Homo sapiens: one gene and its partners. The protein of the gene in region 5 purifies or fractionates together with the protein of the main gene of each other region. This does not show direct contact. Each region holds a gene or a part of one and is shown on either strand. Other genes may lie near its edges.

Region 1 (4,458 bases), on a different chromosome or scaffold from region 5:
ACACTGGAGAACTGCCAAGCTAAGAATTAAGGATGTATTTCACTGACAGAATAATTAACACAATGTACAGGTGCTGGTAACCCAAGAAGAAGTAAGACAGAGTATTTGTAACCACAGCTTACAGTCTGGTGGAGGAGGCAAACGACAATTTCAGTAGAGTGTACTAAGTACTGTAATGAGGGATGGGTGCTGTCAAATGCATAGCAGGGACACACTGGTAGCCTAGAGACTGGGGAGAATCAAGGTAGGCTCCCCAAAGGGGAGAAGGCAATAGCAGGCCCCGTGAGGGGTGTGTGTGTGGCGGCTGGGGGGATGGGGGGAAGGGCGTTTCATTAATGCAAGGCAGGGAAAGAGGTAAGGGTTCCGGGAAGAAGAGCTTCAGGAAGACTGAGTTCACAGTGTTTTGTTGGACAAATTAGAGGAAGACTGAAGGTAAGGAACTACAATAGGCCTCTGCGACTATTCTGACAGGAGGTAATGAGAACTTAGGTAGGACAAGGAAAAAAGAAAGGAATGACTCATATTAGGAAGAAATCACAGTTGAAAAACGGACAGGAGTGGCAAACACTAGCATGGGTGAGCCAATGAAGAGTCAAAGGCAACCACAAAACCTGCAGCCTGGGTGCCACTAAATACCACAGAAAAATCAGTAGGCAGCATAGGGTTGGGGTGAGAATGGATGGAAGTAAGCAGATATATTGAAATCAGGGTCTGGCAAGACACCCACACTAATGCATCAGCCAAAGGTCTAATACAGGGAAATGGAACTCAGAAGGGCAGACAAAAGATATGTGATAAGAGTGGGAAATAAATACCCTGACAGAAATTATGGGCACTGTCAAAGCTTTGGGTAACGTCTACTTCTATAGAAGTGGGCAGTTGTGCCTCCTCTAACATTTGGCAATTCCTGAAGATATTTTCCATTGTGAAAACTGAGGTGCAGGAGGTGCTACCAGCATCTAGTGGGTAAAGACCATGGATGTTACTAAACATCCTATAATACAAAGGGCAGCCTCCAACAACAAAGAATTATCCAGCCCAAAATGTCAACTGTATGGAGGTTGAGAAACTCTATTCCAGAGAATCACATGAGAAAGAGCAATTAGAAACATGAAAAAGGCTAAGTGCAGTGACTCACACCTGTAATCCCAGCACTTTGGGAGGCTGAGGCAGGCGAATCACCTGAGGTCACGAGTTTGAGACCAGTCTGGATAACATGGTGAAACCCTGTCCGGACTAAAAATACAAAAATTAGCCGGGCATGGTAGCGCACACCTGTAATCCCAGCTACTTGGGAGGCTGAGGCATGAGAATTGCTTGAACCCAGGAGGCGAAGGGTGCAGTGAGCTGAGATCGCACCACTGCACTCCAGCCTGGGTGAGACACAGCGAGACTCTGTCTCAAAAAAAAAAATAGAATAAACATTTCCTATATTCTAATATACATTAATTATGTAATAGTGCCCAAAAATGTACACTATGGTACGTCAACTAACTATGCCTATGCAGTTAAAAAAAAAAATCATGTATGGGAAAACCAAATATAAATGATACTTATTTCCTGCTCCAAAGAATGTGGCTATAACTGGTTCAGAGTGCTGAGCTGGTAAAATCCAACTCACTTCTATAAAGTTTTAATATTAAATTGACATAAATTCTTTATCTGTCTGTGCTCAGAGAACAAAGACTGTTTGCAGCAATCATACCCACCTCCCATACTAATGTGTATGATGGGACATAGGAAGAGAATGCCTAGGATTCCAGCAATGATAATCAGTATTAACTTTTCAGTCTATTCTGCTGACACAGTAAATAAGTCACCCATCCACCCTCCAAAGTACATTGCAGGCTTTCATAGCAAGAGTATCATTTTATTAAGTAAACTCAATACATTATTTAAAAAGTTCAAGAGTCAGCAGTAGATAGTAAGAGCAACTCTTTTCTTGGGTTAAATTTGAACCTATTGATTCAAAAGGTTAAAGTGCTTCACCATCTCACTAACAGCAATAAGTTCATCTGATTTAAATGCAATAAATTTTAATATTATGTAATTTTACGGGGGAATGAAACATACCAGAGAACGAAATCGTACAGATTCTATTTGTCCATACTCTTTAAAAAACGACTTCAGCTTCTAAAATTAAAAAAAAAAATACACATTAGCTGACCTTCAGAACATCAAATAAGTGCTACAAAAAGGAATTAAGAAAAATTGTCTGATAATCCTCTACTGCCAGGCTTTTTTTTTTTTTTTTGAGACAGAGTCTTGCACTTTCGCCCAGGCTGGAGTGCAGTGGTGTGATCTCAGCTCACTGCAACCTCCGCCCCCACGGCTTCAAGTGATTCTCATACCTCAGCCTCCCAAGTAGCTGGGATTACAGGCGCCCGCCACCATGCTCAGCTAATTTTCGTATTTTTAGTAGAGACGGGGTTTCGCCATGTTGGCCAGTCTGGTCTCAAACTCCTGACCTCAGGTGATGCAACCACATCAGCCTCTTCAAGTGCTGGGATTACAGGCATGAGCCACCGCACCCGGCCTACTGCCAGTTTTTAAGAACATTTCAGGAAAGTAGGTGACTATTCAGTTGGATGAACAAAAAAATTTTACTGAAACTTGTGAGACTCTGTCTCAAAAAAAAAAAAAGAAAACACAATTCAAGCTCCTATTAGTATCCATCGGATGTATGCTTTTCTTTCAATCTTTTATAACCTTTATCACATGTAAATTAAGGATAGACTTATAACTTCCATAGATTCTCTCATGTTTTCACATTGGTTTAAACCAGGAATAAACTTTTTTTTTTTTTTTTGAGACAGAGTCTCACTCACTGTCACCCAGGCTGGAGTGCGGTGGCACGATCTTGGCTTCTGCAACCTCCCCCTCCTGGGTTCAAGCAATTCTCCTGCCTTAGCCTTCAAAGTAGCTGGGATTACAGGCATGTGTCACCACACCCAGCTAATTTTTGGGACTTTTAGTAGAGAAGCGGTTTCACCATGTTGGCCAAGCTGGTCTCGAACTCCCGACCTCAGGGGATCCGCCCGCCTTGGCCTTCCAGAGTGCTGGGATTACAGGTGTGGGCCACCACGCCTGGCCTCAAAAAGGTTTTTCTACTGTTTTTAATCAAGTAGAGTTTAAACTGTCCTTCAAAATATGAGCAGGATACCGAGCTAAGGATTGCAACAGTTACTATCACATGAACATGCAGAAGCAAAGGGCAGGTTTTGCTTCAGTGATCGTCACACAACGGAAGAAACTCAGGACATCTTCATTCTTTAAACAACACATATTTACTATGCACAAGGCACCATTTCAGGTGTCAAGAGACAGAACGAGGCTGGGTGCGGTTGCTCATGCCTGTAATCCCAGCACTTTGGGAGGCCGAGGCGGACGGATCACAAGGTCAGGAAATCGAGACCATCCTGGCTAGCACAGTGAAACCCCGTCTCTACTAAAAATACAAAAAATTAGCTGGGCGTGGTGGCGGGCGCTTGTAGTCCCAGCTACTCAGGAGGCTGAGGCAGGAGAAGGGTGTGAACCCAGGAGGCGGAGCTTGCAGTGAACAGAGATCGCGCCACTGCACTCCAGCCTGGGCAACAGAGCGAGACTCTGTCTCAAAAAAAAAAAAAGAGAGAGAGAGACAGAATGATGAAAAAAGAGGATCAGGCCCAGTGGCTCATGCTTGAAGTCCCAGCACCTTGGGAGGCTAAGGAGGGCAGATCACTTAAGCCCAGGAGTTTGAGACCAGCCTGGGCAACATAGTCACAAAAAAAAAAACACAAAAATTAGCCAGGCACGGTGGCGTGCGCCTGTAGTCCCAGCTACTCAGGAGGCTGAGGCAGTAAGATCACTTGAGTCCAGGAGTTTGAGGCTGCAGTGAGCAATGATCATGCCACTACACTCCAGCCTAGGTGACAGTGAGAACCTGTCCTGAAAAAGAAAAGAAAAAGGAAAGACATCTTTAAACATATGGAGCTTACTTTCTAGTGGCATATAACAGGAGACAAGGCTGAAAGAAAGAAACCAGGCAGGAGGTCACTGCAATATTCAAATATAATCTGCAAAAGCCTGAATTGGCAGGGACTACAGGAATGAAAAGGAGGGGGTGGATACTGGAATCCATTCATATTAGGATGATTTATGTAATAATTTACAATGAAGTTATATCCATGACTTACTATTGAATGCTTATTCAACACAGGAAGAACAAAGTTATTAACTTCTCTGAACTTTTACCATATACAAACTCACCTTCTTATTACATGTAACAGGCAAATTCCCAACAAACACAGTTCTCTCATTCTTTAATCTCTCTTCTTCTTGGTTGATTTGAATTTTCTTTCTTTGACTGACAACTGTGTCTTCTGTGTCATCAAGTATTTTTCTATCTGCTACTTTAACACCAGGTTGAGAATTTTTCCTTTTCTGCCCTTGTTTCTGGTGAATTTCTTCTTCTAAATC
Region 2 (4,458 bases), on a different chromosome or scaffold from region 5:
GGACCACAAAAGACAAGCATAACTTGGCTTCACACGGCAGCCTTTTGAATATGTCATGGTAGCAGTTCAGGCCTCTATTCCCATCCTGCAGCTCCTCCACCCCTCATTCACCAAGACTCCTTCCCCTGCCGGATCTCTCGCCTAAACAGACTCCAACATGCTGCTTGTCTTCCCTCTAAAGTGTGTGGCCCAGAAGCAAACATCATAGCCCAGATATGGTCTGACCAGTGCAGAAGAAAAAGGAACCATCAACTATCTTAGCCACATTGAGGAAAGTACTGGTTCTGTGACATTTACAATTAATGTATCTCAAGACCTAGTTGTTTTATTTAGCACCCATTTACCATTGGCTCACAAAGGGCTAGCAGAGGAAGCTCCATCACTTTGTGGCTAAGCTATGTCCCCTCCTCTACTTGTGCACTGGCTTTCTGGACCAAATGGCAGGATTTTACATCCATCATCTTTCTAATGTGACTCATCATGATTGCCTGACAGGATCTTTTTGGGATTTGATACCAACTTAAACATTTTTGCTGCTACTCCAAATTCCAGGTTATTATAAATTTCATAGGCATGGCTTCCATCACTTCATTCAAACCAACAGAAGAAGCCAACTGAGTACCTACTCTTGCTCTATCAAATCCCCACTTCTCCCCTCTGTTCACTCCACTCCCCTAGCCAAAAATGCTAGAGGTTCTTTGTAGGCAAGAGGAAATCATAAAGTAGTCTAAGGTTGTTAAGAGGTTCTTGAGTCCATCAGCTAATCTCAACTTCAACAAAATCCCTGAAATGGTATAAAAATATTATGCACTTAGCGTGTGTATATATGTGCTATAACGTTCTCTAGATTCTAAAGGGCTCTATCTGTATCCTAAAAGATTAATCACTGATAGTGGTTACACATTCAACCAACTTCTGGGCACAATGGCCCATAACTGTTATCTCAGCAACTTGAGGGGCTAAGGTGGGAGGAGTGCTTGAAGCCAAATATTTGAGACCAGCCTGGGCAACATAGCAAGATCCCGCCTCTACAGAAAAATTTAAAAATTAGCCAGGCGTGTTGGTGCATATCTAGCCCTTTAACTACTACTAATAATTTACTAGAACCAGCTGGGTGCAGTAGCTCATGCCTATAATCCTAGCACTTTGGGAGGCCGAGATGGGTGGATCACCTGAGGTCAGAAGTTCGAGACCAGCCTGGCCAACATGGTGAAACCCCATCTCCACCAAAAATAACAAAAAATTAGCCAGGCGTGGTGGTGGGTGCCTGTAATCCCAGCCACTCAGGAGGCTGAGGCAGGAGAATTGCTTGAACCTGAGAGGCGGAGGTTGCAGTGAGCTGAGATCGTGCCACTGCACTCCAGGCTGGGTGACAGAGCAAGACTCCGTCTCAAAAACAAACAAAAATAAATTTAAAAAAATAATTTACTAGAACCAAATAGCTAAGATTCTTCAGAAATTACTTGTTGCAATGTAATGCGTTACAAACACTCATCTTCTATAGTAGCGGCTGTCAAATTCAGGCATGCATTTGCAGCACCTAGAGGGTTTATTAAAATACAGATTGCTGGGCTCTATCCCAGAGTCCCTGATTCAGTAGGTATAGGGTAGAGCCTGAGAACTATTTTTTTTTTTTTTGAGACAGAGTTTCACCCTGTTGCCCAGGCTGGAGTGCAGTGGACGCAATCTCAGCTCACTGCAACCTCTGCCTCCAGGGTTCAAGTGATTCTCTTGCCTCAGCCTCCCAAGTAGCTGGGATTACAGGCAGGCCTGCACCATGACCCGCTAATTTTTGTATTTTTAATAGAGATGGGGTTTCACCATGTTGGTCAGGCTGGTCTTGAACTCCTCACCTCAGGTGATCCACCTGCCTCGGCCTCCCAAAGTGCTGGGATTACAAGCGTGAGCCACCGCGTCCAGCCTGAGCCTCAGAATTTGCATTTCTAACAAGTTCCCAGATGCTGCTGCCACTGCTGGTCCTGGGACACATTTGACAACCATTGCTCCAAAGTTCTGTGGTTGCCATGGTGCGCCACTGCTACCAGCAGGTATGTTAGAGTAGAAAAAGAGGTTGAAAACCAAATTCTAGACTAATTCATAACAATTTAAATAACATGTTGATGTCTTAAAGGTTATAGACTTGGATAAAACAAAAACCGCAAAATAAGATGAAACAAAAAATCACACAACATGTGATTAATGTTATTAAAACTTCTATACAAATAAAATTGCTAACACATTTTATACCTAAACTTGCATTAGTCTTCTAAGACATCCTCTTTGGAGAGGGCAATACAGAAAACATTCATAGATACATGTACATTCTGCATAACAGTTTTAAAAGCCTCTAGGGACTGGTCTAATAACACTATTAACAAGTTGTCTCTTTCCAACTTAAACGTTGCACACTGGTAAAAAGAAAGGAGGCCAGGTGGGGTGGCTCACGCCTGTAATCCCAGCGCTTTGGGAGGGCGAGGCAGGTAGATTGCTCGAGTCCAGGTGTTCAAGACCAGCCTGGGCAACATAGCGAAACCCCGTCTCTACAAAAAATACAAAAAATTAGCTGGGCTTGGTGTCACAGGCCTGCAGTCCCAGTTCTTCAGGAGGATGAGGCAGGAAGATCACTTGAGCCCAGGAGGCAGAGGTTGTAGTGAGCTGAAATCACACCACTGCACTCCAGCCTCGGCAACAGAATGAGACTCTGTCTCAAAATAATAATAAATAATAATAATAATAATAATAATAATAATAAGTAAAATAAAAAATTTAAAAAAAAAGAAGAAAGGAGGCATGGCTTCAAGGTGGGAAACATCACAGGTAAATTTGAGAACAAATAATAGGATACACACTCCACCTTTCAGAAGGGTAGAATCTATTAAAAGAAAATATTCAACTATAACAAAATATGACAAGTTTCTCTTACTATTCTTATCAGGTGTAAACTGCATATCCTACAGAGCACTTAGGAAACTGTCTTGCTGTCAGTAGACACGCACACACTTCTTAAATTTTACACTGGACATGTAATTAGATGCTTAAATTTAGCAGGTGACTATAAATTAGAATAATTTAACAAATAACTTCTAGAACAGGTCTAGAAGCAGTAGATTATATATCTTAAAATTATTTTATCAAATTGGGACATCTTACATATTATCAGTACTTTTTCTAGATGGGGAAATGCTTGTAATTTAGTATTTTAAAAAACCCAGTAGAACACAAAAGTGTAATTACACAGCATGTTCCCAATTTTGTGGGGAAAACTACATACACGTGTGTATTTTTTTTTTAAACGGAACAAATATTCATTGGGTCTTTACTGGGTAGTAGGATTACCAATGACTTTCACCTTTTCAGTCTCTTCTACAACTAAACACTATGAGGAGAGTCATCTGTTCCACGCTGTATCTTGAGCATTTTGTCTAGTCCCTGGTATATAACAGGGGATCTGTACCTATTGATCAATATTTACGTGAATGGTCCCAACCCTCATAGTGAAATTCAACTTCTCCACAACCAAAAAGCTATTATTCCTTCAACTCCTGACCCAAATGCCATCCTTTCAGAAGTTCTTTTCAGGTCAATGTGGCAATTTAATCCTTTTCCTTCTCCTAACATTTTGTACTGTTCTCCTGACTTTCTTCTTACCCTACCCTGCGTTGTACCAGAGGGCTTTGCAGCTGTTAAGTGTTCATATTATTGTTTACCTGATAGAGTTCATGAGACCATTGGAGATATTTTGTTCAGTTTAATTCTTCACTTGTAATTGTCAAATACATTTATTTCACTCCATAATACATTGGTACCCAATCTGGATAATACTGGTGTTTAACAGTGTACCACTCACCAGTGATTTGCTTTGCAGGAAGGACAACACTATGATTTTTAAAACAGCAGATACCATTGTCATATATCACTAATTATGGCCAGGCACTATTCTAAGCAGTTTACATACATCAACTCTTAATCCTCACAACAGCCCTATGAGGTAGGCACTATTAATATCTCCATTTTACAGATGAGGAATCTGAGGTACAGAGAAAGCCAATAACCAGCCCAAGGGCACACAGCTAACAAGTAGCAGAGCTGGGATTAAACTCAGAGTTCAGCTCCAGAGTACACACTACAATGATGGAAGGTGACATGGAGGAAATTTTGAAGGGTGTGTAGTGTACAATGCTATATACTACCTTTCTACTAAATAAAAACCCAATCAATTACGGCTTAAAAAGTATAGGCTTAACCAATGAATCATCTGGCAAAGGTTTTATATATTTTATAGAAAAAGATACCCATAACTTAGGGGAAATAAAGACAAACAGGAATCTTTTTGTTAGCGAACATAAAGATGGTCTGAGGGTTATTAGTGTCATTTTAAATTGCTGCCTAATTACAATTAAATCATTTATCTGTGTATGAATTAGCCCCCTACAGAGCCAAAGTTGCCATCCCTTTCAG
Region 3 (4,458 bases), on a different chromosome or scaffold from region 5:
GGAGTCTCTTCAGGGCTATTACAAAGTTGTCTACCCGGGCGGCTCGGGTACGTTCCTTGCATAGCCAACTAATTAGTTCAAAGCCCAGCTGGGCTGCAAAGCAGCCAAGGTCCTTTAACCTCACATCTTCTAAGAGGCGCCGAGCATGTCTCCAGAGCATCATGTCAATATACATGTTCTCAGCACAGTCACTGTCTTTGCTCCATCTGTAAGTGGAAACACAAGAAAGCTACAGAATAATCTTTACTGGAGGATTTCACATCCTTATTACGCAGAGGTACTGATAAAGCTGACAAGGAGATAAGAGATCCAAGATCTAATTCTGATTGACAATGAAGATAAAGTATCAACGCTTCTCCTCCGTGTTACACCACAACCCTCGGAACACAGAAGGCTCTTAAGACACATTTGTAGAATGAATACAGGGAACAGGAAAAGGGGGACAGAAGAAGTCAGACCAGGAAGCAGGTGATGGGTGGCTGACAGAAAGAAAGGCAGCAAACCTCTATGCTATATTTGAAAAGCCCAATGAAAAGAGGGAAGGAGAGCACATCAAAGAAACTAAGGATAGAGAGGCAAAGTGAAATTAAATTTCTCAGTGTGAGTCATGCAGACATATGAAAAGAATACCAACTTTTTTTTTCTTAAATGACAAGGTTTCACAATGTCACCCAGTCTGGAGTGCAGTGGTGTGATCATAGCTCACTGCAACCTCAAACTCCTGGGCTCAAGCTATCTTCCCCACCTCAGCCTCCCAAGTAGCTGGGACTACAGGTACTTGCCACCATGCCTAGCCAATGTATTTTTATTTTTGCAAGGATGGGATCTTGCTGTGTTGCCCAGACTCATCTTGAACTCCTGGCCTCAAGCAATCCTCCCACCTTGGCCTCCCAAAGTGCTGGAATTACAGGTGTTAGCCACCTTGCCAGTCCTGAAACCAATTTTTAAAAATTACAACTTGCCTAAGTATAGTCTCTCATTCCTGACTTACATGAGCTAATGTGGGGGAACTGGTTTGGTAACTGGATAATGTGGTGCTTTAAGTGAGAGGCAGTTTAGTGGTGGGGTAAAGAGCCTAGTCTCTGGTGCAGTACTGCCTGGATTCGGATCTTGGCTCTGCCACTCATTTGTTGTGTGAACATAACTAAGTTTATTTTCCTAGGCCTCTGTTTCTTCACCTATACAATGTGGATAACCCTCATAGAGTTGTTTAAAATAGGACCTATGTATGTAAATGCTTAGAATAAGGCCTGGCATGTAGTAAGCACTTGTTAAAAAACAGTAAAACAGGCTGGGCATGGTGGCTCATGCCTGTAATCCCAGCACTTTGGGAGGCAGAGGCAGGCGGATCACCTGAGGTCGGGAGTTTGAGACTAGCCTGACCAATACGGAGAAACCCCGTCTCTACTAAAAATACAAAATGAGCCAGGCGTGGTGGTGCATGCCTGTAATCCCAGCTACTTGGGAGGCTGAGGCAGAAGAATCACTTGAACCTGGGAGGCGGAGATTGCGATGAGCCGAGATCAAGCCATTGCACTCCAGCCTGGGCAACAAGAGCGAAACTCCATCTCAAAAAACAAAAAAACCCAGTAAAACATGACAATAACAAACGTTCAATAAGCTCTCACTATGTGCCCAAGCACGGTAGTAAGAATATAAACATATGTTCATGTTGTCCTGGGGAAAAAAAAAAAAAGAGAATATGAACAATATAAAACAAAGGATTAGGTAAGGAAAAAAATGAGACAACAACAGAAGAACATAGGAAGGAATACACAGGCCTCACAAACCAGAGGAAATTCTCATGATTTTATAATGTTAGTGTGAATTCATAGTCATCTCTCAGAAGACAATATCCCATCTATGGGTGATAGCAGTTTCAGTCTCCAGCATACAATTCATTTGGCTCCCCGACTGTGTAATAACTTCTCTAATCAATAGGTCACAAGAGTGTCAAATGCATTAGCACTAAATTTATATCAAAAAGTATAATTAGAAGGAAAGGTAAAATTACGACTTTAAGAAGGCTTTTGGATTACCTACAGATTTATCTATCTTCCTTTTGGTCCTCTATCATCAGAGGTAATTTAAAAGTTTGTTGCATTTTCAAATCAAAACCACAACGCAATGCCACCTTACTCCTGCAAGAATGACCATAATCAAAAAACAGTAGATGTTGGCATGGATGTGGCCATCAGGGAACACTTCTACACTGCCGGTGGGAATGTAAACTAGTACAGCTGCTATGGAAAACAGGGTGGAGATTCCCTCAATAACCAAAAGTAGAACTACCATTTGATCCAGCAATCTCACTACTGGGGTTCTACCCAGAGGAAAAGAAGTCATTCAAAAAAGATACTTGCACACACGTTTATAGCAGCACAGTTCACAACTGCAAAATCGTGGAACCAACCCAAATGCCCATCAGTCAACGAGTGGATAAAGAAACTTGTATATACGTATATATGATGGAATACTACTCAGCCATAAAAAGGAATGAATTAACAGCATTTGCAGTGACCTGATGAGATTGGAGAGTATTATTCTAAGTGAAGTAACTCAGGAATGGAAAACCAAATGTAGTATGTTCTCACTGATATGTGGGAGCTAAACCATGAGGACGCAAAGGCATAAGAATGATACAATGGACTTTGGGGACTTGGGGGAAAGGCTGGGAGGGGGTGAGGGATAAAAGACAACAAATATGGTGCAGTGTATACTGCTTGGGTGATGGGTGCACCAAAATCTCACAAATCACCACTAAATAACTTATTAATGTAACCAAATACCACCTGGACCCCAGTAACTTATGGGAAAAAAAAGTTTGTAGCATTTGGCCAGGTAGGGTGGCTCACGCTTGTAATCCCGGCCCTTTGGGAAGCAGAGGCAGGTGGATCCTTGAGGCCAGGAGTTCGAGACTAGCCTGGGCAACATGTTGAAACCCCGTCTCTACTAAAAATATGAAAATTAGCCGAGTGTGGTGGCATATGCCTGTAATCCCAGCTACTTGGGTGGCTGAGGCAGGATAATCGCTTGAACCTGTAAGGCGGAGGTTGCAGTGAGCTGAGATGGTGCCACTGCATTCCAGCCTGGGTGACAGAGTGAGACTCTGTCTTAAACAAGTTTGTTACATTCAGAACAGGTACATGAAGATCTATTCCAGAAAAAGGGGCAGAAACTATTCAGAGGGTGCTGAAGTGAACTTGGGAGGAAGGAAAAAGGGAAGCCTTCTGTGTGGCCTCTGCTTTTTGGGAATGGAAAAAGAAACTGCAATTGGATTAAATAGTTGTTTCCATTAAGACCTAATTTTGTAAATGTCTTGAAATGCAATGTGTCATGAATGCCCAAAAAGCAGTAATGGCTCTTTATTATTTTACCTTTTTCCAGAGGGACCAGATGGCATACTTAGTGTTTTCTGTAAACTGAATTTACTGGCAGGAACATTTTCAGCTGACTGGGATAAACTGATGCTTCGATTCCTGAAGAACTCAAATCCACCACTTGAACTGGGTTCCTAGGATTACACACCATATGCAGTACCATTAGAGAAAGATGCTACGTGGGTGTATGGCCTAGAGAAGATGTGTAACTTTTGCAACTAACCTGAGCTGTGGGTGTGGATGGAGGTGTCTCAGATTCTCCAGAGCCAATGGCTTTAAGAAATCGAATCATGTGTCGACAAAGGTCCCACTTGCCTTGTTCTAGTGCTGTGTTGAATAGAAGGGTAGCATGTTGCCTACTTACTGCAGGGACTTCCATATTCTACAAAAAACAACCAGGACAGCATTCTTTTTATACTACACAATTTGGGAAGATATGAGCAATTCTTTATCTCGTTTTCTAAACTCAAAGAATGTAGCCACACCACCACAGGGGTTAGTTTAATAATAAGATTAAAAAGTACCATACAAGGAAAAGCGAGGCAAGTACTCTTCTGGTGTATGTAAACTATAATTTATTAAACTCCTACTACATGCCAGATAGCATACATATACTTTAAGTCATTTCATTTATTTCTCCCAGTGACTCTGCAGATAGGCATATCATTTGTATTTTACAAGTGAGGAAACTGAGTTAAGTAAATTGTTGAAGATCAGCAGAAAAGGAAGAAAAAAAAGGGAGGTTTGCCTGACTCCAAAATAGGTCAGGTCTGTCTCCTGTTGCAGAGTTTTCTGAGGATGTGACTAGAATCTTTGCTTTGGGCAATAGCAAGTAGTAAAGTTCTGCTGCACATTCAGAATCCTCCATTTTTCTTTCACAAATTTAACCTGCCTATCTTGGTCTTTATGGAAAGGTGCCTAATAGACAACTGTAATTGTAATTATTATCTGCCAATCCATAGCAACTTAGGAATTCTGTTGCAGAAAAAAATTACATTGTCAGGGAGATACAGTGAAGTTGCAGGGAGTGACCCGGAACCAAAAAACAGCTGCATTTATTTTGATTCTATTTTTAAAA
Region 4 (4,660 bases), on a different chromosome or scaffold from region 5:
CTAAGGCTGGAGGATTGCATAAGCCAAGAAGTTTGAGGCCACAGTGAACTATGATCCACTGCCAGCCTGGGCAATGGAGTGAGACCTCCTTTTTTTTTTTTTTTTTTTTTTAATGACCTTTAGTTTATGGGACACTCTTACGGAGAAATATTTGTGGATACATAAAAATTGTGTAGTTTTTATTAGTTTATTATACTTTTATTAGTTCAGTCTCAATAAAAGGTTGAAAGGCATTACGATAAATTTGTTCTTGTCTGTTTATATCATTTCTTCTTGGCTGCTCACTGAGTCTTAATCAGTGTACTAGACTGCAAACTAAAGAATAAGATTGGGGGCAGGTTATAAAAAGAACATGTATAAAGCTTAGCAAACCCTTTTTAATGTTCTGAAGTCAGTCTTTGTAAGTGAAATCGCTGGAGACTAGAAAGTATGAAATGGCAGTCTACCTGGGCAACCTACAAAAAATTTAGCTTGAAAAGACTTCAGTCTCCGCTCCCCTGTTGATCTCATGGAGTGGGGAATGGGAATTGAACCAGAACTGGAAAATTATTTAGGAAAGTTTGTTAACTACTCTTTGTTGATCTCATGGAGTGGGGAATGGGAATTGAACCAGAACTGGAAAATTATTTGGGAAAGTTTATTAACTACTCTTTCTGCTGAGTAAATTTAAATGTGTTCTGGACATTGTTGAGGTCTAGAATTGTCTATACAATGCCCTGTACAAGCTACATTGCTGTCATTTTCAAAATCAGGAGTTTATTTGGATTACATATACTTTGTGCTTAATTTTAAGTAATGATTACTTCAAGACTGGTGAATTATACGTGACTTTTTGTGCCTGTTCTTTATAGGCTATGGAAAGGGCAAATGGAATGGAGCTGGATGGTAGAAGAATTCGGGTGGATTATTCTATAACCAAGAGAGCGCACACACCAACACCAGGCATCTACATGGGCAGACCAACTCAGTAAGAGTTCAAGTTTCCTAAGCTAAACTATGAAATCCACCAGAAATATGTGCAAAATTTTGATTACTCAGAAACTTTTTTCCTATAATTAGAATTGATTCTGGCAAGGGGCAACATGGCAAAACCCTGCTTCTACTAAAAAAAAATAAAAAATCAGCCAGGTGTGGTGGCACATGCCTGTAATCCCAGCTGCTCGGGAGCTGAGGCACAGGAATCACTTGAACTTGGGAGGCAGAGGTTGCAGTGAGCCTGGGCAACAGAGTGAGACTCTTTCTCAAAAAAGAAAAAAAACATAAGTAGGGGTTTTGATAATGTTTTTAAATATACAACCCTCCTGGCTGGCTCACGATGTTCATTTGCCGGGCGCAGTGGCTTACACCTGTAATCCCAGCACTTTGGGAGGCCGAGGCGGGTGGATCACGAGATCACGAGATCGGGACCACGGTGAAACCCCGTCTCTACTAAAAATACAAAAAATTGGCTGGGCATGGTGGCAGGCACCTGTAGTCCCAGCTACTCAGGAGGCTGAGGCAGGAGAATGGCATGAACCCCGGAGGCAGGGCTTGCAGTGAGCCGAGATCGCACCACTGCACTCCAGCCTGGGCGACAGAGCAAGACTCCGTCTCAAAAAATAAAAATAAAATATACAACCAAAGGCAGTATTCACAGAGGTATTTCTTGGGAATAAAAGAAGGAATATAGTCATTCCTTGGTATTCTCTTTGGTGTCCAGAGTTACTTAAAAATTCTTGGTGTTTATTGCCTTTTAGTCACAGGGATACACCTTTTATTCATTTATTTATTTATTTACCAGTCTCATTTAGCAGTAGGAATGCATCTTAGCATTTTTATACTGCTGCTCAACACAGTGCTTCATCGTTTCAATTTGTTGAAAAGATTTTAATTTGGGCAGTGCATTAGTAGAAAAGCAGTTAATAGTTTTGAGAGTTTTGTGAAGCCCTTCTTGATTATGTATGTAGGGAATAAGGCAAACCAGAATACCATGGGAGTCAGTAAAATGAGATACGGAGGCAATTTCTCATGAAAGGGATGTTCTTCCTCACTTTTCTCTTTTTTAAGCCATTCAATTTGTATTAAAGTGTCCTGGAAAATAGTCATTCACACTAATGGAGAATTTTTACATTTTTCTGCAGTAGTGGTGGGGGTGGTGGAGGAGGCGGCGGCGGTGGAGGTGGAGGTGGTGGCAGACGTCGAGATTCTTACTATGATAGAGGATATGATCGTGGGTATGACAGATATGAAGACTATGATTACCGATACAGGTAATGTTTTAACTTGAGCTTTCTGTTCTAAATTAGATGATAGTAGTGTTACTTGGCACTTTTATGTTGGATACATATGAATAAAAACTTGATTTTTAAAATAGATCATATATGACGCCTTTGGGAGCAGAAGTTAGCAGTCTGTATATGTCAGTATTTTGTTGTGCTATATACTTTTCTGGTCTCATTGGCAGAAAGAGAACTTAATATTAAGTAGTTATCACCTTAGGTACATTATTATTTTGAATGATGAGGAATTTTTATTTTCATCTGCCTCAGTGGAGTGATTATATAGTATGCTAAGTAATCTTTCATTTCTTACAGAAGACGATCACCTTCTCCTTATTATAGTCGATATAGATCACGATCAAGATCTCGTTCCTACAGCCCAAGTATGTGAACTTTACTTTTGTAGCATAAAAAACCTCATTTCTAATTAATGGCTTACTTTAGAATATTAGAGTATAAGGTGGAAGGTGGCAGTTAATAGTTGGAAAAATATGAGGCAAATTAAACTATAATTGTTAACTTTTTTTTTTTTTTTTTTTTTTTGCTTTTTCTCTTTTAGGACGCTATTGATAACGGAATGGTTGCAATTAAGGACATTTTTTTTCCTCTTTTTTTTTTTTTTTTTTTTAATTCTGAGATTTCCCCAAGCTGTGGATTCTTCCTACTCCTTAAGAAAAAAACTTTGGTTTATTTAGCATCTACACTTTTGTCAGTTGTGTTGCTGTTTTCCACCCATTTTATTATACTCTTAAAAGATGTAATTGTTGTCATTTTGAACAGTTAAACATCTTGAGTATAAAAAGAACCCCAATGTTATGTTATGCTTTGTAAATTTTTTTTTTTGCTTTTACCTAGATAAACTTCTAGCTAATCAAATAAGGAAAGAAACTGTCTTTTTAAAGCTTCTTTTGTGTTAGATACTGTATTAGAGATCTGCATTTATCATGAGTTCCTTTTTTTTTTTAACTTTATTTTTGGGAAAGTAACACATGAAGTAGTTCAGTCATGTCAGGTTTGTCTGGGGTGGAATGGAACAGTCAGGTAGTTGAAAGTTTTTTTTTAGAGATGAAAAGCTTGTGAACTCCTGTAAAACATGCTGTATTTGAAATACATCTGTTAAAACTTAAAAACTAAAGTGTGATTTTTTTTGTTGTTGTTAAGTTTATTGAAGTTTATTCCCTTAATCAGTGAAGGACAACCCTTATTTATTACCTAGAGCAGTTGTATAATTCGCTGTTAGAAATTTTGGTATTGGGACAGTGGATAAGCAGGTTATCACATAGCATAGAATTCTTAAAAGATACATGTGGGGAAAAGTAGTCTCAAATAAAAGCTAATTTCTTTGAAAATGGGATTGTCTCTTTATTGTGGTACCATGGAGAAATATGATTGAGGAACTGGTCCTTCCTTTTCCCTCACATCCCCCCAGTGTGTATTTATATGAAAGTTTACCCATCCTGAGTTTTAACTTCCCAATATTTCTCATTTTTAAAAATATTTTTTCTTACACTAGAATGTTATTCCTTGTCTTTTCTTTGGTTCTTTTAAAACCCTTGTTTTTCTTCTCTTTTGGGGGAGACCGAATTGTAAATATTGAGAATATTCAGTACCAGCACCATGCTGAAGGAAAGATAGGTAGCTAATACCTTTTTTTTTTTGAGACGGAGTCTTGCTCTGTCACCCAGGCTGGAGTGCAGTGGCGCGATCTCGGCTCACTGCAAGCTCCGCCTCCCGGGTTCACGCCATTCTCCTGCCTCAGCTTCCCGAGTAGCTGGGACTACAGGCGCCCACCACCACGCCCGGCTAATTTTTTGTGTATTTAGTAGAGACGGGGTTTCACGGTGTTAGCCAGGATGGTCTCGATCTCCTGACCTTGTGATCCACATGCCTTGGCCTCCCAGAGTGCTGGGATTACAGACGTGAGCCACTGCACCCGGCCTACTTTTTTTTTTTTTTTTTTTTTTTGGAGACAGAGTCTCGCTCTGTTGCCCAGGCTGGAGTGCAGTGGCGTGATCTCAGTTCACTGCAAGCTCCACCTCTCTGGTTGACGCCATTCTCCTGCCTCAGCCTCCCAAGTAGCTGGGACTACAGGCACCCACCACCACGCCCGGGTAATTTTTTGTATTTTTAGTAGAGGGTTTTCACCATGTTAGCCAGGATGGTCTCGATCTCCTGACCTCGTGATATGCCCGCCTCAGCCTCCCAAATTGCTGGGATTACAGGCGTGAGCCACTGCGACCGGCCTATAGGTAGATAATATCTTAAGAAGTCTAAATATATTCCAGTAGGAAACACACTTAAATAACTGTAATGTAAAAGAAGAAGAGGGTGTTTCAAGTGACCTTTAAAAAAAGGTGTTGGGCAGCTGGGCGTAGTGGCTCTCACACCTGTAATCCCAGCAC
Region 5 (4,458 bases):
ATGAAATTAAAACAACTTAAATACCGGCTGGGCACAGTGGCTCACGCCTGTAATCCCAGCACTTTAGGAGGCCGAGGTGGGTGGATCGCCTGAAGGTCAGGAGTTCGAGACCAGCCTGGCCAACATGGTGAAACCCCATCTTTATTTAAAATACAAAAAATTAGCCGGGCGTGGTGGTGGGCGCCTGTAATCCCAGCTACTCAGGAGGCTGAGGCAGGAGAATCGCTTGAACCCAGGAGGCAGAGGTTGCAGTGAGCCAAGATCGCACTGTTGCACTCCAGCTTGGGCAACAGAAGTGAAACTTTGTCTCAAAAAAAAAAAAAAAAACTTAAATAACTGCTCAAGACAATACAAAATATTAGATATTAGATAGATATGACTAACCACTGAATAACTGGTATGGCCAACAGATGCAACAAAAATTCAAACTAGGGTAATGACTCTAAACTAGAGAAGTCATGGCTGGCTGGGCATGGTGGCTCATGCCTGTAATCCCAGCACTTTCGGAGGCCAAGGCAGAAGGATCGCTTGAGTTCAAGAGTTTGAGACCAGCCTGGGCAACATGGCGAAACTCTGTCTCTAAAAAATATGAAAAAAATTAGCTGGGCGAGGTGATGCATGCCTATAGTCCAAGCTATTCGGGAGGCTGAAGTGGGAGGATCACCCAAGCCTGGCAGATTGAGGCTGCAGTGAGTCAAGCCATGATCATACTACTGCACTCCAGCCTGGGTGACAGAGTGAGACCTTGTCTCAAAAAAAAAAAAGAAGAAAACTCATGGTTGGGAAATGGCATCTAAGTTGGGTCTTAAAGGACTGGTAGGATTTAGATAGGTGAAAGAGAAAATCTATTTAAGGGAACTGTATGCACAGGGCATAAAAGAAACACTTGCAAGAATTGTTAGACTCCTGCAGAGGCTCTAGAGACAGTGTGATGGGCATGAGTGCAGTCAGGCAGGCTCTACCACTAAACTTTGGGAAGTCCTGGGCAGGTTACTTACCTGTCTGAGCCTTGGCTTCTCATCCTTAAAGGGATGAAGTTAAGAGTTACATCTATTTCATAGGGTTTGAGTGGAGATTATATGAAATACCAAGTGTGAAGTCTGTTTAGCCCAGTGTCAGCCATGTAATGGGTTCTCAAACAACCTAGTTTCACCTACTCTGCAATTAAGCAGTGTTTCCATACCACCTTCACAATTTTCCCATTTCCTCTATCATCTTTACTATTACTTATTTTCTATTTAATACCATTACTTAATTACTATTACATAAAATAAAATGTTTATTTCAATATTTTCTTTAAAATATCACTTTAACATTTTATTTTAAATATCACTTTAATAGGTATTCTTTAGCCTTAACCTAAGTAATATTTGAAATCATGAATTAAATCTTTCATTCTTACTAAAATAAACTCGTAATTATTGAAGTAAAAAAAATTTTGCCGGGCACAGTGGCTCACACCTATAATCCCAGCACTTTGGGAGGCCAAGGCAGGCGGATCACCTGAGGTCAGGAATTTGAGACCAGCCTGGCAAACATGGTGAAACCCCATCCCTACTACAAATACAAAAAATTAGGCAGGTGTGGTGGTGTGCGCCCATAGTTCCAGCTACTCAGAAGGTTGAGGCACAAGACTTGCTTGAACCCAGGAGGCGGAGGTTGCAGTGAGCCGAGATCGCGCCACTGCACTTCAGCCTGGGTGACATAGTGAGACTCTGTCTCAAAAAAAGAAAAAAAAAAGGTTCATCTGTGAACCTCCTAAAAACTCAAGATCCACATTTTAAAAATACAGAATTGCTCTTCTTGAAAGTAGTATACCAATATGACCAAAATACATTTTGGCACAGAATTACTTTAAAATGTTTTCAAGTCTGCTGTAATGCGCTTTTTACGTACCTGTTTTAATTTATAGACTTCAATATTTCTCACATGATATATACTCCTGATTGTAGATGAATTATAAGGGGGGCACTCAAAATGACCTTAGATTGAAGCAGAAAAATAAGCTATATTTAATTTCCTTAAATACTGCAAATACAAAGACATATACACAGGTCTCCAAAATATCATGTACACCTTCAATATATACGATTTTAAAAAGTTATCTAGGGAAATTTTTTAAAAAGATGGTGGACTGCAGTCTCCTTCCTTTGCAGGCTCAAATAAGGGTGTATCTGCTTTCTAAGGTCCCACACATGGTTGCTGGCACACTTCAGTTACTTTCTAACTGTTGACTAGAGACTAGTTCCTTATGCTCCCAATATTAATAAAATAACAAATTATTGTTGTTTTAAGCCGAAAAAGAAATATGTGTATTATATGCATAAATGATATCCCTGAGATAAAATAGAAAAACCTGATAAACAGCTTCCCAAAAGTGGTTCCAATTTGTACCCACACCTGCCACAGAGAAGACAGCCTATTTTGTACCTCCATTCCAACAGTTTAGAATAAGAAAGAGCCAAGTGGCAGGGAACAGACTTGTAACAGTTACATTCAGGATGTAAGTTTTAGCTGTCAATGTAATTCATGAAATTTGTGAAATCGATGTGAATCCAAGCTATTCCTTTAACTTTGAAATCAAAGTATAATTCATTCAGACACAATGAAATTAATATGCAGTTGTGATATACTTATATAATGGAATACTATTCACAAATGAACAGATTAGATTACATGTATCAACACAGACTTCAAAGCATGTTAAACAAAGAAGCAAGTTTGAGAAAGATACAAGCAATACGATACATTTATATGAAGCTTAAAACAAGTACATTGTTTAAAGTTCTTACATATGTGGTAATGATGTAAAATAATCAAGTAAATTATAATCACCAAATTCAACACAGTGACTGCCTGGCAAAGACAGGGAGGGAAGAAAAGAAGGGAACGGGATTGAGGACAGATAAACAATGAACTTTAATTGTATCTATACTGTTTTATTTCTTAAAAATAAAAATAAAAAAATAGCAAAATACAGGCCGGGCGTGGTAGCTTACGCCTGTAATCCCAGCACTTTGGGAGGCAGAGGTGGGTGGGATCACTTGAGGTCAGGTATTCGAGACTAGCCTGACCAACATGGTGAAACCCCGTCTCTACTAAAAATACAAAAAAATTAGCCGGGCGTGGTGGTGGGCGCCTGTAATCCCAGCTACTCAGGAGGCTGAGGCAGGAGAATGGCTTGAACCTGGGAGGTGGAGGTTGTAGTGAGCCGAGATCGCACCACTGCACTCCATCATGGACACCAAGAACGAAACTCTGTCTCAAAAAAAAAAAAAAAAAAAAAAAAAGCAAAATACTAAGACTTGATAAAACTATATCGAGGATACAAAGATATATGAAAGAGTCAAAGTACATATCATGCTTAACTTACTCTGGGGCATGCAAGTTCTAAAGTTTAAAAATAATTCTCAAAACAATACCTTTTCGATAGTCATGAGATTTAAAGATACCAGAGATTCCACCGATCCTTACACCTCGGTATTTTACCACACCAGCCAAACCTAAACAATACAGTTAAATAAAATTACTGTAGGCAAAAGGAATCTCTACACCGACTGAATAAACCATTCCATTTAGATGGAATTCCACACAGTTCTAAAATTATTTGAAAATTAAGCACCATGATGAGGTTATGCTTTTTACATAATAATATGCCAACAGTGTATTAGGGATATATTATAACAGTATATAAAGGTAAGGTCTGGAATTAGATGAGCCAAAACACTAAGTAGATTCTGGAAGGGACAAATGAGATAGGGTACTGAAAGTGAAACAGACATAATTTGGTACCTAACTGAATACACGGGTGAGGTAGTGGGAGGTGGAAAATGTCCTATGATGGATTTACATGTATAAACCTGAAAATCAACAGGTATAAGGTATAAAGAACCTACAGCTTCTAGTTTCATTTCTGATTGATCATCTTCTGACAATTTCACTTCTTCACAATATTGTAATATAGGATGAATACATCAAAAGATGATCAGTAAGTAGCAAAGTAGGGAAACTAAATTTCTGAAATATGATCTCATCATTGGTAAAATCTATAAACTGTTCTAGAAAGAATATACATTTAAATAAAGGGATGAAGCTGGGTGCGGTGGCTCATCCCTGTAATCCCACCACTTTGGAGGCCCAGGTGGGCGGATCACTTTGAGCTCATGAGTTCGAGACCAGCCTGGACAACATGGCCAAACTCAGTCTCCACAAAAAAATACAAAAAAACAAAAAAATTAGCCGGGCGTGGTGGTACACGCTTGCAGTCACAGCTACTTGGGAGGCTGTGGTGGGAGGATGGCTTGAGCCTGGAAGGCGAAGGTTGCAATGAGCTGAGATCAGGCCACTGCACTCCAGCCTGGGCAACAGAACCAGACCTTGTCTCGAAAAATAAAGGGATGAAAAGGCTATATAGTTTATAGGGGCCAATATTGAGACAATCTAATCAAATCTGAAAAT
Region 6 (4,458 bases), on a different chromosome or scaffold from region 5:
AAAATACCAGAACAGGCCGGGCGCGGTAGCTCATGCCTGTAATCCCACCACTTTGGGAGGCCGAGGTGGGTGGATCACCTGAGGTCAGGAGTTCGAGACCAACCTGGCCAACATGGTGAAACCCCATCTCTACTAGAAATACAAAATTAGCTGGGTGTGGTGGTGCATGCCTGTAATACCAGCTACTTGGAAGGCTGAGGCAGGAGAATTGCTTAAACCTGGGAGGTGGAGGTTGCAGTGAGCTGAGACCATGCCACTGCACTCCAGCCTGGGCAACAAGAGTGAAACTCTGTCTCAAAAAAAAAAAAAAAAAAAAAAAAAAAAACAACAACAACAAAACAGAATAACTCCATGATGTATTTTATCTCACCAAAAAACAAAAAAATCATCTAGAAAGAATGACCAACCAAGTAGCAATAAAGCACCCCTATAACTCAGACTGGTATCTAAATACCATTTCCCAAAAGAAAGGAACTAGAATTCCTTTTAAAAGTGGCCAATTCCAGATCTGGGGCAGGAAATGTATAGGGTCCCACTGACCAAAGGTGGGACAATTTGATCCAATCCATTAACTGCAATGGACCAAAATAAATACGTTTGAGCCCATAAGCTTATAATAACAAATGATACGAAAACAAACCACCAAATCTCACTGGTCACCTATGAAACCTATTAGAGATCAACTCATAATTATGCAAACTGGCTAACAAAGGGAGGAAGATCAAACATTAATCTGCCCTTCCTGAACAAACTATACCTCTTGGTAACTGAACAGTTGATGAGGCAAAGTTACTTCTTGAAGAGGTATTCCACCTAATAAATGAAGACCGACTGACAGAATTAGTATATTGTCATTTTGCAATCCTAACGAACACTGCTGGCAGCTTATAGCACAAGAGAGACAATCAAATGAAATGTTATGTGCCACCTGAGAGAAAATACATCATTATGATAAAGTATTCTTGACAAGGAGGGGAAAAAACTTCAAAACCTGAATCTGATCAGGCCTCTAGATCACAATTTACAAAAAACTTGGAGTACAGATGAACATGTTAAAATGACATCCCTGTGCCCTGTGGAAAATCCTACAGGATGTACAACTTAGTCTATTCAAATAATAAACGGCAAAGAAAAAGAAAAATAGAGGCAAGAGGAGACTTAATAAGACAATACACAGGTCTTGTTAGTTTTTTGTAGAGACAGGGTCCTGCTATGTTACCCAGGCTAATCTTGAACTCCTGGGCTCACATGACCCTCCCCTTGGCCTCCCAAAGTGCAGGGATTATAGGTGTGAGCCACTGCACCCAGCCTATAGGTATTATTTGGATTCTGATTCTCACAAACTATATATATATATAAAATATATATATAATATATAAATACATAAAATATATATATAATATATAAATATATAAAATATATATAATATATATACTATATATAAATATATAAAATATATATATAATATATATACTATATATAAATATATAATATATAAATATATAATATATATAAAAATATATATAATATATAAATATATAATATATATAAAAATATATAATATATAAATATATAATATGTATAAAAATATATATAATATATAAATATATAATATATAAATATAAATATATAATAAATATATAATATATAAATATATATAAATGTATATTTTATATATAAATGTATATAAAATATATATAAATATATATAAAATATATATATAAATATATATATGGCGCCAATTGGGATGAATCTGAACTAAATATTTGATGATATTAAGGAACTGTTAATATGTTAAACTGTTAATTTAGGTATGATAATGATACTGTGGCTATTTTCTTTTAACAAGTCTATCTTTTAGAAATCTATACTGAAATATTTGTGAACAAAATGCTAGGTTTTCTAGGATTTTCTTCAATGTAGTATGTGAGAATAAACAGATGAGGGTACAGATGGAATAAGATTAGCCATAAACTGATACCTGCCGAAGCTGATGATGGGCTCATTATACTACTCTACTTTTGTTAAGTGTCTGACATTTTCCATAATGAGCAAGAGAGGGAGAGAAAGGAAGGAAGGAGGGAGAGGAGGAGACTAGCCAAGCCTTGAGACTTCAGCAGAAGTCATCAGATGATGACTCTTCCAGGGCTTTCTGCCTTGGCCCAAACTCCAGCTCCCTAAGGACCTTTCTTTCCCCTGCATCCCAGCTCCAGGGAGGAAGACATACCGCAAAGATGAGTGAAATGTCAGTGGTAAGGGCCTGCACTCGGTGGAAGGAAGCAATAAGGGTGATGGGTAGGAAACCATCAGCATCCATTTTCCTTCGCAGGAAGAAGTCTCGCTCTAAATTGTCCACGCTGAAGTAGTATTCACTAAGTGGAGGGAAGAAGTAGTTATCACCGAGGGATTGGTGCATCAGTTTTATGAGTATGCCTTCCTTGTTCTGCTACACACCCCAGCAATCTCACACAGCCTCTGACCTACCCCATCCTTATCCTATATACCAACAGTGTTGAGGGCTGAAAAGAAATGATGTGATCCCTTCATGACACCCTACCTTGCTTGGGTCAAATCACTCCCTCTGCCCTAAGCCCCTCGACATGCCTGTCAAACTCCTCATCCTCCTTTAAATTCCAGTCCAAATATTGTTGGTCACTTTCTCTTCTGCTCCTAAAACACTTATAAACACTCTATTGCAACCATTTATTTTCTTGTATGACTTCCTTACTGGACTGAGAGACAATATATCAGAGTGGTTAAGAACAAAGGTTCTATAATAGGACAGAAAAGGATTTAAATCTGTGCTTTGTTACTTACTAGCTGTGAGATTCTGTGCAAATTACTGGGCCGGTTTGCTTGTCTATAAACTGGGGCTAAAAGACTCAGCTCATAGGAATTCAACAGATAAGAACTGCAGGACTAAGATAATGCCTCTACAACAATAAACACTGAGCCTGGCCGATACTAAGGATTCAATAAATGTTAGTATTCTGTCAATGTTGTCATTACAAATGGAAGAACAGAAGGGGGTAGATTCTAAATATTTTCCTTCCTTTTTGTAATGGTATAGTTTCTAACTTTCTTAAGGTAAATGTTGTACCACTTCTGTAATAAACAATGAGAATGTGGTATCACTTCTTTAATAAACAATGAGAAAAGCTATCTTTTCAGCCTGAGGCTGAAACTGCTGCTAAGCACCAGAAGGGCCTGCCCAGCTATGACACTCTAGCAACCCCTAACCTCTCACTCATTTCTCCAGGGTAAGAAGGCTTCCGCACACTCACATCTGGCGCTTGATGTAGTCTTTGAGCAGTTCCTGATCCACACTGTAAAGCTCGGTGCTGCTGACATTGTCAAAGTAGTAGGTGATGTTGTTCATGTACTTGGGCGTACGAGGCCCCTCCACACCATCAAACTTTCGGTAGCCAAACTGGTAGTCAAAATGGGCTATGGGGGAAACGGGTGCCATGAGGGAGAGGAGATTCCTGCCCACCACCCCTGCTGCACACCCTTGGACATCCCGGAGCCCAAAGGGGCCTCACGTACTTCGAGTGCCACCCCGGCCGCGTCCCCGGCCGCGACCACGCCCCCGTCCACGGCCACGGAAGGAAGCCCGCGCCCCACCAGCCCCATCACTCTTCACACTCGATGTCTCATCCTGGTCGTGCCAGGCAGGCTCCGGTTTGATCTCTGGTTGCCAGGCTGGGGTGGGGGGGGCCACGGGCACGTAGGTGGCAGACTCAGACCCTATGGGGAGAGGGGTACCAGGTCAGGCCTGAGGGTGTCTCCCAAGTCCAGGCCCTCCATAGTGGGTAGTGCATACCTTTGATCTCTCCGCGATTGGCAGGTATGTGTCTAGGCTCCGGTGGGCGAGTGGGGCGTGAAGCCAGTTTCTCTCTGGGCACTTCAGGCTTCATGTCTATTTGTAATGGAACCCACTTGTGTTTGTTTCCTGGGAGACAGCATGGGTACATGAGAAAGGCTTGAGGGAGAGGCCACTCCTAGCCAGCTCTACCCAACTCCTCTTCTTCTGCCCTGGACTTGGGCCCAAATCACAATCTGGTTACCTTGGGCAGATCCCTTTCCCACACATTAGCCCTCTTTTTCATCTCTAAAATAAGCTGGTCAGTGGCCGTCAGTGTGTTAGAGACTCCTCGTTAACTCCCAAGATCAGTGTCTCCATGGCCACAGAATCCCCTTCTGGAGTCAGACACATGGCAGCCCAGGATGAAGACCATGCTTTCCAGAGTCCCTATAGACAGGTGCCAAAACACTGCCTACGAGAGCTAAGCTGAAGTAACCAACTCCAGGTTGAGTCCCTAAAAGGAAAGGGGCCACCCTTCCCTCTTCCTTTCCTCCTAGCTAGAAGAAGAAGGAAATAGGAAGCCATCAGTGATGATATGAAGAACCGGTGTACCACAGCAAGCTGAAGGGATTCAGGAGTTGCCATACCAGGCC
Region 7 (4,458 bases), on a different chromosome or scaffold from region 5:
ACATCTCTCTGTGATCTCTTAATTCTCACTTCACAGTCTGCTTCTCAGTTGACATAGGTGGTATTATTTCCTAGAAGAAGGTTAATTGAAAGTAAGTTTCAGTAACAGTTTGTAATTTAGTTGCATTCAAAACAAATCTGAATATGATGTATAAAAAAATGTGACTTCTTAGAATGATTAATAATTTATTGTTCAAGGCTAGGAAAGACTGTTGACTATTGCTATTTGTATCTTAATCTGAATTTCTGTTTTGAAGCCAAATAAATTGTAGTTGGCATTCAAAAATTTGAATTTTAAAGTTTTTTTAAAATGATCTTGGCTTCTGATTCCTTTAAGTTCTATGTTCTGTTGATTTGGGGCAGTTTTGTCATTACTTAGTATTTTTTAGAAGGTCAGCAAAAATAGAAAATGAAGACAAATGAATCTGTATTTATACTTTGCTGAAACACTGGATTAAATTAGAAGATGAATCTGATTAAATGAATTTTCCTAGAATTTCAGCTTTTCTAGAGTTATTTGCCAGTGGTAACATGAGCATTATTTCTCTGTTGCTGCATTTTATAGGATAATTAAGGTATATGTATAACAGATGGATTTTTGAAATAGGTGAAGGGTAACTTCAATGAAGAGTCCTTAATTTGGAGTTAACAGAATGCATACCGACTAAGAGAATTGTGTTTGTAAAACACAATTTTACAAACACAAAGTGGTTCAGAGCTTATTATGAAACCACAACTGTGAAACTATATAATATCGTCAGTTTAAGTTTAGGCTTGGTTATGACAAATGGCACAATTTAATTTTAATTTTCAAACCAAATATAAATGTAACAAATACATTATTATATTTATAATGGTGAATTCTCTCTGTCTTCTAATAGGACGTTGATGCTACAAACCCAAATTATGAAATTATGTGTATGATCAGAGACTTTAGAGGAAGTTTGGATTATAGACCATTAACAACAGCAGATCCTGTAAGATTCTTTGTAAACCATTATTCTGGAACTTTTTATGCTTCAAATAAAAACGTGTTTGACACTTGCTAAATTCATATTGTGTTCAGCTATGTAGTTTTTCCTTTCCTTGTGGGTGCTCATTCCCCATATTTTAAGAAGAAAATCAAGAAATTATCCACATTAATGCTTATTTTCCATAATTTGGTATATGAGATATGCTCCCTATAGAGATGTCCTTCTCGAAGCAAAACCTCCCTGTCTTTGGGAGGGCAAAGCAACACTTAAAGGAGTGATAGCAGAAGACTCACTTTCCTTTCTGACTGTGAGTTATACTTTGATCTCAGTTCCAAGCTTATCTTTGTCTTGGGCTGTAGATCCCACCATCATTTCTAATTTACTATTGGTAATTTGTTAGTTTTAAATGTTATTCTGGCTTTTAACAATAAGTGATGGTTGTTGAGGGCTGCAGTGGACCAGAAATCTAGAACTGGAAAAAATCCTCTGCTGTTATTACTCAACTCCTTTGCTGTTGATGAATGAGAATTCATTGGACAGGGAGTGCCTTTTTTTTTTTTTTTTTGAGATGGAGTCTTGCTCCATCGCCCAGGCTAGAGTGCAATGGTGTGATCTCCGCCTCCCAGTTCAAGCGATTCTCCTGTCTCAGCTTCCCAAGTAGCTGGGACTACAGGCGCCTGCCACCACGCCCGGCTAATTTTTGTATTTTTAGTAGAAACGGGGTTCACCTTTTTGGTCAGGCTGGTCTCGAACTCCTGACCTCAGGTGATCCACCCGCCTCGGTCTCCCAAAGTGGGAGGCCTGTAATCATGCCTGGGATTATAGGCGTGAGCCACCACGCCCAGCCGGGAATGCTTTTATAACTAATTTGTACTTATAAAAATAATCCATCTGACATAGCATATACAGAATGTGTTAGTTACAAAAAAGACATTTGTGTTAGATAGATGTATTATATAGAATTGAATAGAATTGTTGATAATACTTGTATCCCACATATTTTAGGCCTTGCTATTCCTTCATGTGTTTCACTTACTGCATTAGAGCTCACCCTTTAGGACAGGAATTGGCAAACATTTTCTGCAAGGGTCTTTGGCTTTGGAGCTATATGGTCTTTGTCACAACTACTGAACTCTGTCATTGTATTGTAAAAGCAGCCATAGACAATACATAAATGATGGGTATGACATTTGTTTCAATCAATGTGTGTCAGTAAAATTTTGCAGAAGCAGGTAGTAGCTAAATTAGACCCACAGGCCATACTGTGCTAATCCTTGCTTTATGTTAATTATTATTAAAATGAGGCATGTATTGGGAACAAAATTTTTATAAAAAATACTTATGCATAAGAATTGGCATATTTATAAAATAGTTCAAATTATTTGGCTCAGTAATCGTCTGAGAATCCTGTTTCTTGCCATAGTTATCTTTGCTAGCAACTTTCCCTATGATCAACCTATGAAAATATGTCACTTAGTAGAATAGAAATGTTGACTTTTGTTGTGTATAGCACATCTTGAAGTGGATAATACAGCTTTTTTTTTTTTTTTTTGGAGACACAGTCTTCTCTGTTGCCCAGGCTGAGGTGGAGTGGCAGGATCTCGGCTCACTACAACCTCCACCTCCAGGGTTCAGGCAATTCTCGTGCCTCAGCCACCTGAGTAGCTGGAATTACAGGCATGCACCACCATGCCCAGCTAGTTTTTATATTTTTAGTAGTGATGGAGTTTTACCATGTTGGCCAGGCTGGTCTTGAACTCCTGACCTCAAGTGATCCACCCACCTTAGCCTCCCAAAGTGCTGGGATTACCCACCATGCCTGGCATCACAACTTCTTTTTTTTTTTGGTCCAGAGATAAAGTCTCACTGTCACCCAGGCTGGTGGGCAGAGGCATAATCTCGGCCCGCTGCAACCTCCACCTCCCAGGTTCAAGTGATTCTCCCACATCAGCCTCCCGAGTAGCTGGGACTACAGGCATGCACCACCACTCCCGGCTAATTTTTATATTTTTAGTAGAAATGGGGTTTCTCCATGTTGGCCAGGCTAGTCTCAAACTCCTGACCTCAGGTGATCTGCCCACCTTAGCCTCCCAAAGTGCTGGGATTATAGGAATGAGCCATCATGCCCGGCCTCCTCACAGCTTCTTAATGTGAACTTAATGCTACTAACAATAGTAGTACCCTCTACAGAATTATTTCCTAAAGTGATGGTTTTCCAAATAACAAAATAAGCAAGTTTCCATTACACTCAGAATTTTAGAAGTAATTATATCTGACAACCATTAAAATTTGTGCAAAGCTAATTTGTTTTTTAAGCTTACCTATCATTTATGCTATGTATAAATTTCTAAAACCCCTGGAGGAAATATTACATAATTTACGTTTTAGTGTTTTACATGACACTAATAATCACTGAAATAAAATACTTTTTATTTCTAGATTGATGAACATAGGATATGTGTGTGTGTAAGAAAACGACCACTCAATAAAAAAGGTATGGCACTTAATGAGCTCTAATAAAAGATTGATTTTATCTTATTTGTAATGTATTTTTATAATAGCAAATCAAATTGGTTTGGAAAAAATGTAAATCATTTCCTTTGATTTGTATGTAACCATTATGCAGATTTCTATGGCTAAACTTGTCAGTTTGTTATTGCTCTGAATCATTGCCATTCCGAGTCTTGCTTCACAGAAATCTTGATTTTGTTTTTACTTTGCTGTTGAAATATTTTGTCTTAGTGAGTTGCATTTTTATGGGATATTATCTTTATATGTACAGAACTTACTACTTGTATCTTAGTTCTTACTACTTAAAATAATTTTGTACATGAACTCAAATGCTGTGAAAATTATTGGGCATTGATTTTCATTTATTCTTTTAGAAACTCAAATGAAAGATCTTGATGTAATCACAATTCCTAGTAAAGATGTTGTGATGGTACATGAACCAAAACAAAAAGTAGATTTAACAAGGTACCTAGAAAACCAAACATTTCGTTTTGATTATGCCTTTGATGACTCAGCTCCTAATGAAATGGTTTACAGGTAGGTAAATTCATTTTAAATCAGAATTTTGTTCTTATGCCATGTGGTCATCAGCACCTTGAAATTTACATTGATTGTGGGATATTTCTTAAGAGGTGCAATATGCTGTTTTATTCTGAGTTTAAACAAAGAGAATGTAATAAATGCTGTAATGAATATTAACACTTGTTCTCTGTAATGCTCCCCAAAATCATAGTTTCCATTACTATTTGCTAATTAGCTTATTACACATATATATACATATATATACATATCACACAAACCATGTATATGGATAAGAAATTTCGGGAAAATGTTAACATTACCTCTAGGAATAGGATATGATAAGAAGACTTTTAATTTTTACCTTTTAATCTCTGTACTAATAAAGAAACTTGAAATGTTTGTTTGAGGCATGGTCTTGCTCTGTTGCCCAGGCTGGAGTGCAGTGGCACGAT

Evidence for each region.
Region 1: the proteins of DBR1 (region 5) and RBM34 purify together in Homo sapiens (affinity purification with mass spectrometry, with the first as the bait; one large-scale study listed by BioGRID). This does not show direct contact.
Region 2: the proteins of DBR1 (region 5) and MYH10 purify together in Homo sapiens (affinity purification with mass spectrometry, with the first as the bait; one large-scale study listed by BioGRID). This does not show direct contact.
Region 3: the proteins of DBR1 (region 5) and RIC1 purify together in Homo sapiens (affinity purification with mass spectrometry, with the first as the bait; one large-scale study listed by BioGRID). This does not show direct contact.
Region 4: the proteins of DBR1 (region 5) and TRA2A purify together in Homo sapiens (affinity purification with mass spectrometry, with the first as the bait; one large-scale study listed by BioGRID). This does not show direct contact.
Region 6: the proteins of DBR1 (region 5) and LARP1 purify together in Homo sapiens (affinity purification with mass spectrometry, with the first as the bait; one large-scale study listed by BioGRID). This does not show direct contact.
Region 7: the proteins of DBR1 (region 5) and KIF2A purify together in Homo sapiens (affinity purification with mass spectrometry, with the first as the bait; one large-scale study listed by BioGRID). This does not show direct contact.

Annotation. Positions count from the first base shown.
Region 1 is NC_000001.11:235,150,633-235,155,090, forward strand, and holds part of RBM34 (RNA-binding protein 34), read right to left. Parts: coding exon 4,249-4,458; intron 2,134-4,248; coding exon 2,074-2,133; intron 1-2,073.
Region 2 is NC_000017.11:8,623,859-8,628,316, forward strand, and holds part of MYH10 (myosin-10), read right to left. Parts: intron 1-4,458. UniProt on the Homo sapiens protein: Cellular myosin that appears to play a role in cytokinesis, cell shape, and specialized functions such as secretion and capping. Involved with LARP6 in the stabilization of type I collagen mRNAs for CO1A1 and CO1A2.
Region 3 is NC_000009.12:5,764,718-5,769,175, reverse strand, and holds part of RIC1 (guanine nucleotide exchange factor subunit RIC1), read right to left. Parts: intron 3,763-4,458; coding exon 3,604-3,762; intron 3,515-3,603; coding exon 3,378-3,514; intron 207-3,377; coding exon 1-206. UniProt on the Homo sapiens protein: The RIC1-RGP1 complex acts as a guanine nucleotide exchange factor (GEF), which activates RAB6A by exchanging bound GDP for free GTP, and may thereby be required for efficient fusion of endosome-derived vesicles with the Golgi compartment.
Region 4 is NC_000007.14:23,503,727-23,508,386, reverse strand, and holds the end of TRA2A (transformer-2 protein homolog alpha), read left to right. Parts: intron 1-851; coding exon 852-967; intron 968-2,120; coding exon 2,121-2,249; intron 2,250-2,573; coding exon 2,574-2,641; intron 2,642-2,817; coding exon 2,818-2,828; 3' UTR 2,829-3,607; downstream 3,608-4,660. UniProt on the Homo sapiens protein: Sequence-specific RNA-binding protein which participates in the control of pre-mRNA splicing.
Region 5 is NC_000003.12:138,168,211-138,172,668, forward strand, and holds part of DBR1 (lariat debranching enzyme), read right to left. Parts: intron 3,504-4,458; coding exon 3,423-3,503; intron 1,983-3,422; coding exon 1,897-1,982; intron 1-1,896. UniProt on the Homo sapiens protein: Cleaves the 2'-5' phosphodiester linkage at the branch point of excised lariat intron RNA and converts them into linear molecules that can be subsequently degraded, thereby facilitating ribonucleotide turnover.
Region 6 is NC_000005.10:154,793,089-154,797,546, reverse strand, and holds part of LARP1 (la-related protein 1), read right to left. Parts: intron 3,953-4,458; coding exon 3,824-3,952; intron 3,748-3,823; coding exon 3,547-3,747; intron 3,448-3,546; coding exon 3,285-3,447; intron 2,373-3,284; coding exon 2,228-2,372; intron 1-2,227. UniProt on the Homo sapiens protein: RNA-binding protein that regulates the translation of specific target mRNA species downstream of the mTORC1 complex, in function of growth signals and nutrient availability.
Region 7 is NC_000005.10:62,354,279-62,358,736, forward strand, and holds part of KIF2A (kinesin-like protein KIF2A), read left to right. Parts: intron 1-880; coding exon 881-976; intron 977-3,412; coding exon 3,413-3,467; intron 3,468-3,858; coding exon 3,859-4,021; intron 4,022-4,458. UniProt on the Homo sapiens protein: Plus end-directed microtubule-dependent motor required for normal brain development. May regulate microtubule dynamics during axonal growth. Required for normal progression through mitosis. Required for normal congress of chromosomes at the metaphase plate.